4 linked regions of the Homo sapiens genome follow. The protein of the gene in region 4 purifies or fractionates together with the protein of the main gene of each other region. This does not show direct contact. Each region holds a gene or a part of one and is shown on either strand. Other genes may lie near its edges.

The links. Proteins that work in one complex are often made in the same cells at the same time.
Region 1: the proteins of LIN28B (region 4) and RBM34 purify together in Homo sapiens (affinity purification with mass spectrometry; 2 studies listed by BioGRID and IntAct, with this or other methods). This does not show direct contact.
Region 2: the proteins of LIN28B (region 4) and ZNF354A purify together in Homo sapiens (affinity purification with mass spectrometry; one large-scale study listed by BioGRID and IntAct). This does not show direct contact.
Region 3: the proteins of LIN28B (region 4) and LARP4 purify together in Homo sapiens (affinity purification with mass spectrometry; 2 studies listed by BioGRID and IntAct, with this or other methods). This does not show direct contact.

What each region holds. Positions count from the first base shown.
Region 1 is NC_000001.11:235,137,251-235,140,750, forward strand, and holds part of RBM34 (RNA-binding protein 34), read right to left. Parts: intron 925-3,500; coding exon 841-924; intron 691-840; coding exon 627-690; intron 1-626.
Region 2 is NC_000005.10:178,727,860-178,731,919, forward strand, and holds the start of ZNF354A (zinc finger protein 354A), read right to left. Parts: upstream 2,801-4,060; 5' UTR 2,697-2,800; exon of another isoform or gene 2,207-2,696; intron 1,765-2,206; exon of another isoform or gene 1,215-1,764; 5' UTR 1,164-1,214; coding exon 1,131-1,163; intron 1-1,130.
Region 3 is NC_000012.12:50,407,385-50,410,884, reverse strand, and holds part of LARP4 (la-related protein 4), read right to left. Parts: intron 1-3,500. UniProt on the Homo sapiens protein: RNA binding protein that binds to the poly-A tract of mRNA molecules. Associates with the 40S ribosomal subunit and with polysomes. Plays a role in the regulation of mRNA translation.
Region 4 is NC_000006.12:105,026,607-105,030,106, reverse strand, and holds part of LIN28B (protein lin-28 homolog B), read right to left. Parts: intron 1-3,500. UniProt on the Homo sapiens protein: Suppressor of microRNA (miRNA) biogenesis, including that of let-7 and possibly of miR107, miR-143 and miR-200c.

The sequences.
Region 1 (3,500 bases), on a different chromosome or scaffold from region 4:
AGAGTGTGTACTAAAAACTGTCTAATGAATAATTGAACTTTCTAGACCTCGGTCTATAATGTGTTAGACCAGATGATGTCTAATGTACCTTCTGACCTAATTATGCTTATTTGAAGAGGACTATGTTTTTGTTTCTTTTTAAGAAACAGGGTCGCCCTCTGTTGCCCAGGCTAGAATGCAGTGGCACGACTACAGCTCACTGCAGCCTCAAACTCCTGGGCTCAGGTGGTGCTCCCACCTCAGCCTTCTGAGTAGCTGGGACTGTCGGCATGCATCACACACTTGACTAATTTTTTTTTTTTTTTTTGTAAAGGCAGGGTCTTGCTACATTGCTCAGGCTGCTCTTAACTCCTGGGCTCAAGTGATCCTCCCGCCTTGGCCTCCCAAAATGTTAGGATTACAGGCATGAGCCATTGTGCCCAGCCAGGACTACGTTTTTGAAGGGAATGTTGACCTCGGTCCTTGTGCCTCTCTTGCCATCAACTCTGTAACCACAGAGGACATAGGCTGTTTCCTTCTGCGCTTCCCTCACATTGCTGATTCCAGTCCCCTTCCAGGAAAAGCCTGGAAGGAAACATTTCTCTCTACAAAGCTCTCGTTCTTTAAACAAATCAAGTACTACTTACAGATGAGGTCTCAGATGCGAGATCAACTCTAATACGAAATCCATCTGCAATCTGGGCCCCATTTCTGTATTATAAATACAAAGGGAAAATGGTTGTTAAAAATGAGCACTCGATTACTAAAACATCTATGCTAAAGTGAAACCAAAGAATAAAAAAAGTACTCATACATACTTATAGGACAATTATTCTGTTCAAACCTAAGGGATAAAATTACCTTTTCAATGCTTGCGTGGCAGCACTCTCCTCCTTAAACACAACATAGGCATTAATATTTTTCTGATCAGGATGAATTTTACGTCTACACCAAAAAAAAAAAAAGAAAGAAAGAAAAGAGAGACAAGGTAAATTTCTTAGCCTCAAAGTCACTAGAAAAAAATCTAGCTGTTTTCAACTCTTAACACACATGACAAGAATTCCTGGGTGGACATTTCATCTCTTTGAATAAATATTTAGTAATAACTCAAAAAATAACACACAACTTATAAAGATATTAGTGGAGACACAACCCATACTTTCTTAGGAATCATAACCATGAGAAAACAGATGAACCATGTATATGAATCCCTGAGAACCATACAAGAACTAAAAACTGACATCTTAGCTGCAGTCCGTATCTAACACACATATAAACAGTTGTGAAAGACGTGAGTTTTCCTCTTTACTGTGAAACACCCATATAGAAGAGTGCACAAACTACGTATAGCTGAGTGAATTAACAACAGCTCAACGTGCCTTGTAGCCCACTCAGAAGCCTCTCTGTGGCCCTTTCCCGTTGCAGCCCCTCCTTCCCTCCAAAGGCAACCACCATTCCCATTTTTATAGGAACTACTTCCCTGCACATCTTTGTGGTTTTATCAACCAAGTGTCTATTCTTAGACATCATACTTTGGTCTTGTCTATACTTTTGACCTGATATGTCTTTTGAATCTTGTTTAATTTACAGAGTTTTCTCTGTATCTCTTTATCTCTCACTATTTGGCCTGCAGAATTCCCCACAGCCTGGATTTTGTGACTGCAAGCTCATCAAGTAGTTTAACACAAACCTTTGTCCTCTATATTTCTTGTAAACTGGCAGCTGCATCAAAAGGATGGATCAGACTCAGACATGACCCCTTTGTCGCGACTGCTGGTGGGTGTTGTGTTCTTTCCAGGGAGTCATGTTATGACTGGTTTTTACCCTTTTGTCAATGACTGCAGCTGCTGCTACTAAATGCCTAAACTCATTAAGTCACTAGGTTTGCAAAATGGTGATATAATTTGGATGTGAGGAGTTAGCAAAAAGGACCTAGTAATGAACACAGATCTTTCCCTGAAGACATCAACCTACTGTTTTGAAGTAAGAAAAATGCTACTACACAAATGAGTATCATCAAGAAGGGAACTGGAAAATAGTGCCTGACATGACTGATGGCATTCTGTAATAATACACTATACTAATGCTTTTGTATTGATTAAACCAGCTGTGATTTACTGAATGCCTAATATATACCAGACACTCAGCTAGACATTTTATGTATTTCATTTAATCTCACATCTCCAACACGGTGTTTTTTTTCTGATTTTATGAATAAGGAAGCTGAGACTGGAAGAGGTACGTGACTGCGATGAAATGGCAACAAGTGGCTGGCCTAGGACTGAAACCAAGTCTAGCTGACTCTAGAGCCCTGCTCTTCACACAACACACAGCTGCCGACAACATCCAAATCCAACACATCCTAGTGCACCCCCAGGAACAAATGCTGGAGTTCCGCTTCCACCTAGAATGTAAAAAGCCAGAAAGTGCATCACTCCTGCTCTTACCAGTTAAGAAGAAACCAGATAACCCACAGCATCATAACTTTTGTTGCAGCCATCACAGAGCTGAAGTCTTGGGGAAAGCCAGCAGCTAGAAGCTAAGGACAGGCCTGCTTCCTCCAATGAGAGACAGAGGAAGCACTGGCTCTTCTGGCTCTACGATGGCCGAGCACAGGGGCAAAATGCTGGGCACCAGACAAGCAGGAAAGATTCCAGCCATGATCTCACTAAAACACTAGAGCTCAGCGTGGGCTGGGCCTGAAACAGAAGTCCTGGAAGCTGCCGAGGCAGGAGTGTGCGCCCATCCTCAGGATCTGCCCCACTGACCTCCACTCCCTGGGAAAGGCTGAGATCGCAGCTATGGGTGCTGCAGGCCTGGAGGACGGAATGGCCAAAGTGTGGGAAAGGCACAAAGCCCCACCTGGATTCTTCTTGAGAGGTGACAGCGTGCTGGCAGTCCTCAGAGCCCTCGCTTGCTCTCCGCACCTCCTCTGCCTGGGCTCCCACTTTGACGGCACTTGAGGAGCCCTTCAGCCCACCGCTGCGCTGTGGGAGCCCGTTTCTGGGCTGGCCAAGGCCGGAGCCGGCTCCCTCAGCTTGCAGGGAGGTGTGGAGGGAGAGGCGCGAGTGGGAACCAGGGCTGCGCGGCGCTTGCGGGCCAGCTGGAGTTCCAGGTGGGCGTGGGCTTGGCGGGCCCCGCACTCGGAGCAGCCGGCCGGCCCTGCAGGCCCTGCCGGCCCCGGGCAGTGAGGGGCTTAGCACCCGGGCCAGTGGCTGCGGAGGATGTACTGGGTCCCCCAGCAGTGCCAACCCACTGGCGCTACGCTCGATTTCTCACCGGGCCTTAGCTGCCTTCCCGCAGGGCAGGGTTCGGGACCTGCAGCCCGCTATGCCTGAGCCTCCCACCCCCTCCATGGGCTCCTGTGCGGCCCGAGCCTCCCCGAGGAGCGCCACCCCCTGCTCCACGACGCCCAGTCCCATCGACCACCAAAGGGCTGGGGAGTGCAGGCGCACGGCATGGGATTGGCAGGCAGCTCCACCTGCAGCCCCGGTGCAGGATCCACTGGGTGAAGCCAGCTG
Region 2 (4,060 bases), on a different chromosome or scaffold from region 4:
TTTTCTTTGAGACAGAGTTTGGCTCTTGTTGCCTAGGCTGGAGTGCAATGGCATGATCTTGGCTTACTGTAACCTCCACCTTCCGGGTTCCAATGATTCTCTTGCCTCGGCCTCCTGAGTAGGTGGGATTACAGGTGCTAGACACCATGCCCGGCTAATTTTTGTATTTTTAGTAGAGACAGGGTTCCACCATGCTGGTCTCAAACTCCTAACCTCAGGCGATCTGCCGGCCTCGACCTCCCAAAGTGCTGGGATTACAGGTGTGAGCCACTGTGGCCGGCTGACTTCTACAAATTTTGTATCCTCTCTGTGACTTTGTTTTTTCTTGTGTAATTCAAATCCAGCAGATGTCTCACTGAGCTTGCATTCTTAACTACTCTGTAAAACTGCCTTTTAATGCCTGCCCCTTAGGGTTAAGAAATAAATGTGATAATCTACACAATAAAGATGGATAGCGATGATGGCTGCACAGCAATGCGGAAGTACCTAAAATACCACTGAATTATACACTTAAAAAGTTAAAATGGTATATTTTATGTTATATATATTTTGCCACAATAAAAAAAGGTTAAAATGGTAACATAGATGGTAACATGCATACACAAACACACACACACAAATAAATGTGTACAGAAAATGATTTATTCGGGCTGGGTGCAGTGGCGCACATCTGTAATCCCAGCACTTTGGGAGGCTGAGGCGGGTGGATCACCTGAGGTCAGGAGTTTGAGACCAGCCTGGCCAACGTGGTGAAACCCCATCTCTAATAAAAGCACAAAAAAAAAAACTTAGCCGGGCGTGATGGCGGGAGCCTGTAATCCCAGCTACTTGGGAGGCTGAGGCAGGAGAATTGCTTCAACCTGGGAGGCAGAGGTTGCAGCGAGCCGAGATCCCGCCACTGCCTGGGCGACAAAGCGAGATTCAAAAAAAAAAAAAAAAAAGAGAACCACTAGACACGGGTGGGGAGGGTGGGTGGTCCTCCCTACAGAATCCACCACTCATGAGGGCGGACCAGCTCCTCCAAGAGAAAAGGACTTGGGCTCCATCCTGGCTGGAGATGGTCCCGGGTGAAGAACTCCAGTTAGTGGGGAAAATCCATCCACTGGGATCTGGGAGGGCAATGAGCTCACCTGGGGCCTCGCTTCCCGCTGCCCAGCAGCCATGTCCTCTTTCTGGCTCTCCCGGGAGGACGGCGCAGTCTCCAGAAGGCAGATCTGAGAAGAAAAAGGGAGCCAGGAAGAACCCCTTCTGCTTTCCAGCCCTGGAATCCGCAGCTCTAAAACCCCGACTCCCGCTGAGAAGGACCCCGCGCGCCCTCACAGGGATTCGGGAGGAGCCAGGAGCCCGCGGACCAGAGCAGCGCTGGGCCGCCCGGCCAGGCCCAGGCCCCACAGGCTTGGGGCTTACGGAGGGGACGCTGGAGCCGCAGTGGCAGCAGCGACCCGCTGAGCCCACCAGGGCCAGGGCTCGCCCCACGCCGCTGAGTTCCTCGGCGCCAGCTGGCACTGCCAGCACCCACTGCACCGCTCAGGAAACTGAGGCAGCGCCGGGGCACCTGCCCCGTTCACGCCGCTGCGAGGCGGGCCGGGACTCCCACCACGACGGCCCCGGGACGACTTCCCTCCGCCTCAAGCCTTTCCCAGCCGGTTCCTCTCTCTCCCGCCAACGAATCATCTCCCGACTCCACGGAAAACGGCTTTTTTTTTTTTGAGGCGGAGTCTCGCTCTGTTGGCCAGACTGGAGTGCAGTAGCGCAGTGGCAGGATCTCGGCTCACTGCAAGCTCTGCCTCCCGGGTTCAAGCCATTCTCCTGCCTCAGCCTCCCGAGTAGCTGGGACTACAGGCGCCCGGCTCATTTTTGTATTTTTAGTAGAGACGAGGTTTCACCGTGTTGCCCAGGCTGGTCTCGAACTCCTGATCTCAGGTGATCTGCCCGCCTTGGCATCCCAAAAATCTAGGATTACAGGCGTGAGCCACCACGCCCGACCCCATGTATCCCATTTCTAACACGATGTTTCTTTTTTGAGACGGAGTCTCGCTCTGTCGCTCAGGCTGGAGTGCAGGGCTTGATCTCGGCTCACTGCAAGCTCCGCCTCCTGGGTTCACGCCATTCTCCTGCCTCGGCCTCACAAGTAGCTGGGACTACAGGCGCCCGCCACTACGCCCGGCTAATTTTTTTTGTATTTTTAGTAGAGACGGGGTTTCACCGTGTTAGTCAGGATGGTCTCGATCTCCTGACCTCGTGATCCACCCGCTTCGGCCTCCCAAAGTGCTGGGATTACAGGCGTGAGCCACCGCGCCCGGCCAAACACCAGCTCTGAAGAGGAAAGCGCTGGGTGTCCCGAGGCGGGAGGGGTGGCCGTCCTGGGGACGGACTCGGAAACCGGGGCCCGGCTGCGTCCGCCCTGCCCTCGGGGTCCCGGTGCCCCGAGTCCGCGAGGCCCACATGGAGTGGGCAGGACGGGCCCGGGAGGAAACGCCAGGCCCGGCGTCCACGGCGAGCCGGACGCGGGTGCACCAGCAACGGCGAGGGAGCGCCCCGCGGGGGGGCGAGAGTCCAGATCCCGGCGCGGGGGCCGGTGACAGACGCGGGGGTGCCCGCCAGCGCCCACAAAGGCTTTCGGAGCCTCGGCAGCCGCAGGCAGTCCCCGTGCCGGGCGCCGCCTCCTACCGGCTTGGCCTGCCGCCGACGCTCACCTCCCTAAGCTCGAGCGTCCCGGGCCGCGCCTCCCCAGCCGCGAGGCTCCGGAACCGCCGGCCGGGATGCAGCCTCGCGACCCGGCTCCGCCCCGACGGCGTCTGGGCGACCTCAGGCCCGGCGCCGCTCACCCCGCGGCGCGCCGGGGACCAGGAGGGGCGGGGCAGCCGCTGAGGCCGCTGGGAAATGGAGTCCACGAGAGGACACCTGCATTCGGGGAAGTGTAGTTCCATGCGTTTGAGGCGGGGTCCCGGCTGAGCTGTTACGCGCCCACATGCCACAAGAGGGCCCCTGTGAGCTGGAGGGCCCCAGGTTCCTGGTTATAGGGAAGATAAGGGGAGGTTCGCTGAGGGCAGTAACTTGCAACTCTGTGTCTGTGGGAATTTCGGGAGGGAGGGCGTGGGCGGCAGGAAAACGGCCCAGAACAGACCTAGTGCCCCTCAGTTATTCACCAGAGGGGCACTGAGCACCTGCTGTGTGCCAAGCACGGTTGCAAGTGGTTTCACATGTATCAATCAATGAAAGAAACGTCACTGCCCTGGAGAACATTTTTTTGGGGGGTAGGGAGCAGACAATAAGCCATACACATAATTATATAACATTTTCGGGGATAAATGTGAGGAGAAACAGGGTATGTGGAGGGGTTTCGTCGCTGAGGTGAGAATGGACGAGGACTCCCAGGAAGTGCCTGAAGCAAAGGGGAGGGAGGTGCCAGCTACTGTGAAGCCAACGGATGTATGTATGTATATGTGTGTGTGTGTGTGTGTATATATATATATATTTTTTTTAAACTAAATCTTCTCAGTTACAAAAAGAACACCGGCTCCATTTAGAAAGTTTGGCGCTTCCCTACTTAAGAATATGCCTTGAACATTTGAATTTGTCAATAAATATTCTCCCTCAGTGGCATTTTTGATAGCTTCATTGCATTCCATTGCATTTATTTTTTTAAAAAAAACGTTTAATTGGCTGGGGGCGGTGGCTCATGTCTGTAATCCCAGCACTTTGGGAGGCCGAGGCGGGTTGATCACGACGTTAGTTCAAGACCAGCCTGGCCGAGATGGTGAAACCCCGTCTCTACTAAAAATACAAAAATTAGCTGGGCGTGGTAGCGGGCGCCTGTAGTCCCAGCAACTCAGGAGGCTGAGGCAGAGAATTGCTTGAACCGGGAGACGGAAGTTACAGTAAGCCAAGATTGCGCCACTGCACTCCAGCCTGGGCGACAGAGCGAGACTCCATCTCAAAAAAAAAAAAAAAAAGTAGTTGCCTCTGAGGAGGGTACTGGGAGCTGGAATAATACTTGCACTTGCTATTTAACACCTTGATATACTTTTCAACATTTTGCTTTACCATATGCATGTAT
Region 3 (3,500 bases), on a different chromosome or scaffold from region 4:
ACTATCTCAATCAGACAGTATCTGTCATTCATCAAAAGAACCTGACGCCACCATCGATTAGTGGCACTTAACCTTTTGGGGGTCACGAATCACTCTGAAAATATAATCAAAGTTACAAATTTCTCCCTAGAAAGTTCAACATGAGATTCATGAATATTTTCATTAAAAATAAAGAATTCTAGGCCGGGTACCGTGGCTCACGCCTGTAATCCCAGCACTTTGGGAGGCTGAGGAGGGCGGATCATGAGGTCAGGAGATCGAGACCATCCTGACTAACACGATGAAACCCTGTCTCTACTAAAAATACAAAAAATAACCAGGCGTGGTGGTGGGCGCCTGTAATCCCAGCTACTTGGGAGGCTGAGGCAGGAGAATGGCGTGAACCCAGGAGGTGGTGACTGCAGTGAGCAGAGATTGCACTACTGCACTCCAGCCTGGGCAACAGCGAGATTCCATCTCAAAAAAAAAAAAAAAAAGATAAAGAATCCTGTATTAATAGACGTCTAACAGACTGGGTGTTGTGGCTCCTCACACCTGTAATCGCAGCACTTTGGGAGGCCAAGATGGGAGGATCGTTTGAGGCCAGGAGTTCAAACCAGCCTAGCCAACATAGCAAGACCCTGTCTCTATTAAAAAAAGGTATCTAACATTTAGTATTTAATCCTCAAAATACTAAGCCATTACTTCAATTAGTCAGCTGATAAAGCTAATGGCTAACTACACAAACGAACTTAAATATACCTCAACCTCAAGCATCAATATTAAATATCAAAATAGTTCTTTTTTTTTTTTTTGCCGGGCGTGGTGGCTCACACCTGTAATCCCAGCACTTTGAGAGGCTGAGGTGGGCAGATCACCTGAGAGCAGGAGTTCGAGACCAGCCTGACCAACATGGAGAAACCCCGTCTCTACTAAAAATACAAAATTAGCCACGCATGGTGGTACCTGTGTGTAATCTCAGCTACTCAGGAGGCTGAGGCAAGAGAATCAATCGCCTGAACCTGGGAGGCGGAAGTTGCAATGAGTCAAGATCGCTCCAGCCTGGGCAATAAGAGCGAAACGCCATCTTAAAAAAATAATAATAATAATAATAATTCTTTTTCTTTTCTTTTTTTTTTTTGAGACAGAATCTTGCTATGTCATCCAGGCTGGAGTGCAGTGGCACAATCTCAGCTCACTGCAACCTCCACCTCCTGGGTTCAAGCCATTCTCCTGCCTCAGCCCTCTATGCAGCCCCTTACAGGCATGTGCCACTATACCCGCCTAATTTTTTTTGTATATTTTTTGGTAGAGATGGGGTTTTGCCATGTTGGCCAGGCTGGTCTCAAACTCCTGACCTCAAGTGATCCACCAGCCTTGGCCTCCCAAAGTGCTGGGATTACAGGCATGAGCCACTGCACCTGGCCCTGGTTGGGTCTTGAACTCCTGGCCTCAATCAGTCCTCCTGTCTGCCTCCCTAAGTGCTAGTATTACAGGTGTGAGCCACCACGCCCAGCCTACAACTCTAAATGTTTTATTCTGTCAATCTTCTTAACATCCCTACGTGATAGATATTAATATTACCCTCCCATATTATTGTCCTCAATTTACAGATAAGGAAGCAGAGAGATTAAACAAAAAGTGGCTCAGTCTCAGCAGAGATTTAGACCCAGGCAGGCTGGCCCCAGAGTCCATGTTTCTAGACATTGTTTTCTTCTTGCCTGCTGGTCAAAGAAAAAAAAAATCTTTTATGTAACCTTGTATATAAATGTATCTTAATTTTACTCAGTCACTGCCCTCCTATTTTTTTTCTTCCTCCAACTCAAAAGGCAAAAATAATCCTATTTTCATTATCTTGCTCAACTGCAACTTTCTGCCCTATAAATTTACATTTTCCACAGCCAATATATTTAAAAAAAAAATTTTTAAGACATGGGGTGTCACTATGTTGCCCAGACTGGTCTTGAACTCCTGAACTCAAGTAATCCTCCCACCTCAGCCTCCCAAAGTGCTGGGATTACAGGTATGAGCCACGCCCACCCAGCCTGCCATACCCAATGTAACAAATATTTCAGTACCCACTTACGTGCATTATGTTACTTTGTTAGTATAGCAGGAAAGAAAGTCTTGCCAATAAGCACACAGTAAACCTCTAATCTCTTCTGAAAATTTACAAGTTATTATACAAACCAGAATACTTTTGAGAAGGAAAAAGGGTAAAACATCTGTCACAGAAAATATTTGTATGCTGTGACCTTCCAGGGCAAAATAGCAGGTAAGATCATCTTACCTGCTAGTCAGTAGTATGAAATACTATCGAACTATTTGTTACACAAACCCTGCATTACTGCAGACTTTTCTACCCTGCATTACTGCAGACTTTTCTACCCTGACGAGAAATCCTTTTCTCGCCGGGTGCGGTGGCTCATGCCTGTAGTCCCAGCACTTTGGGAGGCCGAGGAGGGCGGATCACCTGAGGTTGGGAGTTCGAGACCAGCCTGACCAACATGGAGAATCCCTGTCTCTACTAAAAATACAAAATTAGCCAGCATGGTGGTGCATGCTTGTAATCCCAGCTACTCAGGAAGGCTGAGGTAAGAGAATCACTTGAACCCGGGAGGCGGAGGTTGCAGTGAGCTGAGATCACACCATTGCACTCCAGCCTGGGCAACAAGAGAGAAACTCCAGCTGGAAAAAAAAAAAAAAAAAAAAAAAAAAGCAGAAAATCCTTTTCTCTTCTCTCAGTACATACAAACCCAATAGAACTTAACTCAACTCATCCCTGGAGTTTGGCATTTATGAATGCAGTTCACATCCTACCCCTAATAATATTCATCTAAAGCACTCTTCTGTCTTTGGTTTAGAGCCCGTCATTTAAAAACAGTAGAGATATTCTGTGAACCAAAGATTGGTTCAAGTGGTGGGACAAGGACACAGGTAAGACAGGAAAGATGAGTACATACTTAGATGTTTCTTTTTCTTACATTTACTTACACTTTTACATTATAATTTTTTTCAAAAGAGTAAGTGCAAAGTGCCTATTTGCATTTTAACATTTGTATTCCTTTAATTAATTTTCCTTTTTTTGAGACAGTCTCACTGTCACCCAGGCTGGAGTGCAGTGACATGATCTCGGCTCACTGCAACCTCTGCTTCAAGGTGTGCCTCAGCCTCCCAAGTAGCTAGGACTACAGGCACATGCCCAGATAATATTTTTATTTTTAGTAGACATGGGGTTTCGCCATGTTGGCCAGGCTGGTCTCAAACTCCTGGCCTCAAGTGATCCACTTGCCTCGGCCTCCCAAAATTCTGGGATTACAGGCATGAGTCACCCCGCCCAGCTGTACTCCTTTAAATGCTGCAAGTAAATGTGTATTTTAACATACTGCCATCTTCATTCCTCTTTTAAAACTTTTATTTGCCCAACCAAAAGTATACTCTCCAACTATAAAAAAAACTTTAAATAATTATAAATTGTTTGACTTGCCCTAAATCAGAGTATGTTAGTAACAAGGCTGAGA
Region 4 (3,500 bases):
CTTAGCTTAATAGAAAGTTGGAAATTATTAGATATTAAGTGTGTCAAAGCTTTAATTACAATAAGACACACAGTAAGAGTAAGGAGTTGGAACAGTTATTCACTTCTGACCACCACCACCTCGTACCTTGCCAGATCAGTACCCCAACTATAATTCTTTGACTCCACTGCAACCCACACCCCATGTGTTTACTTACCACCTTTTCAATGTCTTCACTCTTTATACAGTTTATATTCTATCATCCATCATTACATTTGCTGCCCTGCATACATCTCCAGTGCCCTTTGTCATTCTCAACTAGGAAAAACCTCAACTCTAGTTAAATCATTTTAATGACTGTTTTACAGCTGTAGCCATGAAGTCAACAATGGCTGGAGAAAAAACACAATCACATTAACTGACTTTAAATTCGTACCCACTATTCTTATGTGGGTCTTTGGCACAGCCTGAAATTCTACCTCTTTTCTATAATGTGTTCATTCTTCTATTTTATACGTCTTTCTTGTTAAATTTCCAAACCTACTCTTCTACCATCACTCTCAGTTGATGACCGTGCTTCAAATTCAAAGAAAAAAAAAACCAGCATAAAAAAGAGAAATCTCGCCTTATCCTACCTTCATATCTATCTACCACCTGCATCTGTGCCCATAAGCTACGCCTTTCCTCCAGGTTTGTAAGAATGAACCTTCTGTACTCACATGATCAGCTCCCCCAGTTGTGCTTTAAATCCCAATACTGTCACCCACTCAAGGAAATCACTCCAGTAATCGTTCTCCTCTCTCCTGCATGTTCAATCTTTCCTTTGCACTAGACCATTCCTATGAACATATAAACATGCTATAATTTCTTCCATTTAGCCACTGCTTTGTTTCTTTCCTCCCATTTATTATAGAAACACTTCTCAAAAGATTGTCTAAACTTGCTGTCTCTGCTTCCTCTGTTTTCATTCTCTGTATTGAACACAACCCACGAAGGCTTTCACCCCCACCAGTCCACTCAGCCCGTTCTTGTCAACCTCAGACCTCAATAATGACTTCCGTGTTGCTAAGCGGTCAAGTTTCAATGGTTATCTTACTTGATCATTTCACCATCAGCACCATTTAACATACCTGATACCCTTTCTTGAAATATTTTCTTTCCCTGACTTTCCCTCCTATTTCCCACCTTCTTACTTAGTGCCCTTTGCTGTTCCTCCCTCTTCTTGACTCTTAAATGCTAGAGTGCCCCAGGGCTTAGTCCTCTTCTTACCTATGTATACTCACTGTGATGGTGATCTTATCTCCTCTTGTGGCTGTAAATATCATCTTTTTGCTAAATGTTGCCAATTTTTTAACTCCAGTGCTGGAACTCCATATAGTGCATCCATCTGCCTAATATACATCTTCACTTGGATGTGCATTATGTATCTCTAATTAAATGTCTGAAACTATACTTTTGATTTCAGGCTCCTTCTGTAGGTTTCCCCATCTTGATAAATAGTCCCTTCATCTTTCCTGTTGTATAGGCCAAAAAACCTTGGAGTCACCCTGGACTCTTTTCCTCTGATAGTCCAAATCTAATCAATCCATCAGTAAATTCTATGGTCTCTTCCTTCAAAACATATCAGAATTTTTGTTCACCACTTCTACTGCTACTACCCTTGTCCAAACCACCACTAGCTCTTTTCTGTATTATTGGAACTTCTTCTTTAGTGGTCTTTCAGCTTCTATCCTTGCCTCTCCACATTGTGCTGTCATTGCAGCTGCCAGAATGATACTCTGAGTAAATCAGATCATGTTACTTTTCAACCTAAAATTTCCCAATGACTTCCTATTTTCTCCAGAATCAAAGTCCTTAAAATGGTTGACAAGATCCAATATGAAAAAATGTCCTGCCATCTTACTCTTCAAATCTCAACCTCCACTATTCTCCCTCACATACTGATTCCAACCCAGAATTGGAATGTAAAGCATTCTAGAACTACTTTGTTAAAGATTTTATCTAAAAGACATGGAAAAATAAAGGGCTGTTTTATTTTACTTTGCTTTACTTGTACGTATTTAAGTATGTATGCAGGTATTATCTCCATGGGAGCAGAAAACCACTTTAATAGCTAAGTGTATCATTAAACTTTCACACACATTCATGGACTTTCTTTTGTACAAAATGAGCTCCTAAAAATGTCAATGAAAATGGAATTTATTGTTTCACTGGATAGCTTTTCAAACCAATAGGAAAATATGAAATAGGCAACAAGTGCTACAGAGATAACTGGTTACCAATTTGGAGAGAAAAGAAAACCTAGACCTTTACAGTTCTTTCTTCAAAAGCAAATTAGATTATAAAGAGAAGAGATACTTAAGTGTAAAATATAAATTAACTAAAATAATACTAAAAACATAAATGAATATAGCATATTTTTAATTTTGTAGTTTGGAAAATGAAATAAAGTCAGGTAACATCAAGGAGAGTCACAGACTTGTCTGTAAAAAATTCAAAACTTCAAAATACTTTTTAAAAACTATCATTAAAGATAAAATATATTTTATAAGCTAAAAAAATTTCTTATTTTTTATTTGAGAAGAAAGATTCATATCCTAAATATATCAAGAGAACTTAGAAATCAATAATAACAAACAAACATCTCAATAGAAAATGGTCAATGGACAAGAAATGTACAATTCTTAGAAGAAAAAAATGAAAACATATAAAATATATTCAACCTCCAAAGTAATCAAATAATGTGAAAAAAACCACAAACAAACAATGAGCTACATCTCTAACCTATGTAACTGGAAAAGATTTTAAAAAGACAACATTCAATGAGCTGTCTCACTTTCAGAGGTGTTACATACTGGCCCGCTAATCATTTCTGGAGAGTAGTTTAGAACTAGGTATTGAAATTTTTAAAATACATATTTTTTTGATCCAGATTTTCACTATTAAGTATTTACCCTAAAGATATAATCAGACAACTTTTCAAAAATGTACATCTAAGAGTTCCCACAGTGGTGTTATTGATCAATTCAAAATACATGAGGTAGCCTAAATATCCACTAACATATTATTCTTTAAATTATATTTTGGTACATTCAAATAGTAAAATTTATGAAGTGATAACAATTGACATGAAATATTCTATAATATACTATTAGGTGAAAAAAATTACAAGTTTCAAAATACCATATATATTATAATTCCCACCTCTAGGATTTCAAGTGATTTTTTCCTCTTTACGGTTTTTATATTATTTGGACTTTCTATACGTGAGCTGTCTTTCAAAAACAGACAAAACAATAGGTACATTTTCATTTGAAAAAAGAGGTGAGGTGTTTGGCAAATTCTGGGTGTAAAAAGGGGCACCTCTATCTATTGGGAACTTCAACTCCTCAACTGGGGTCTCAGAACAGTCTGGTGGAAAAGGTGGTCAAGGAACTATTCAGTGCTTAATGCTGAAGGCTCAGTTCAGTACATTCTGCAGATAATTCAAACTGCAAGATAGCCTATATTTCTGATATTTA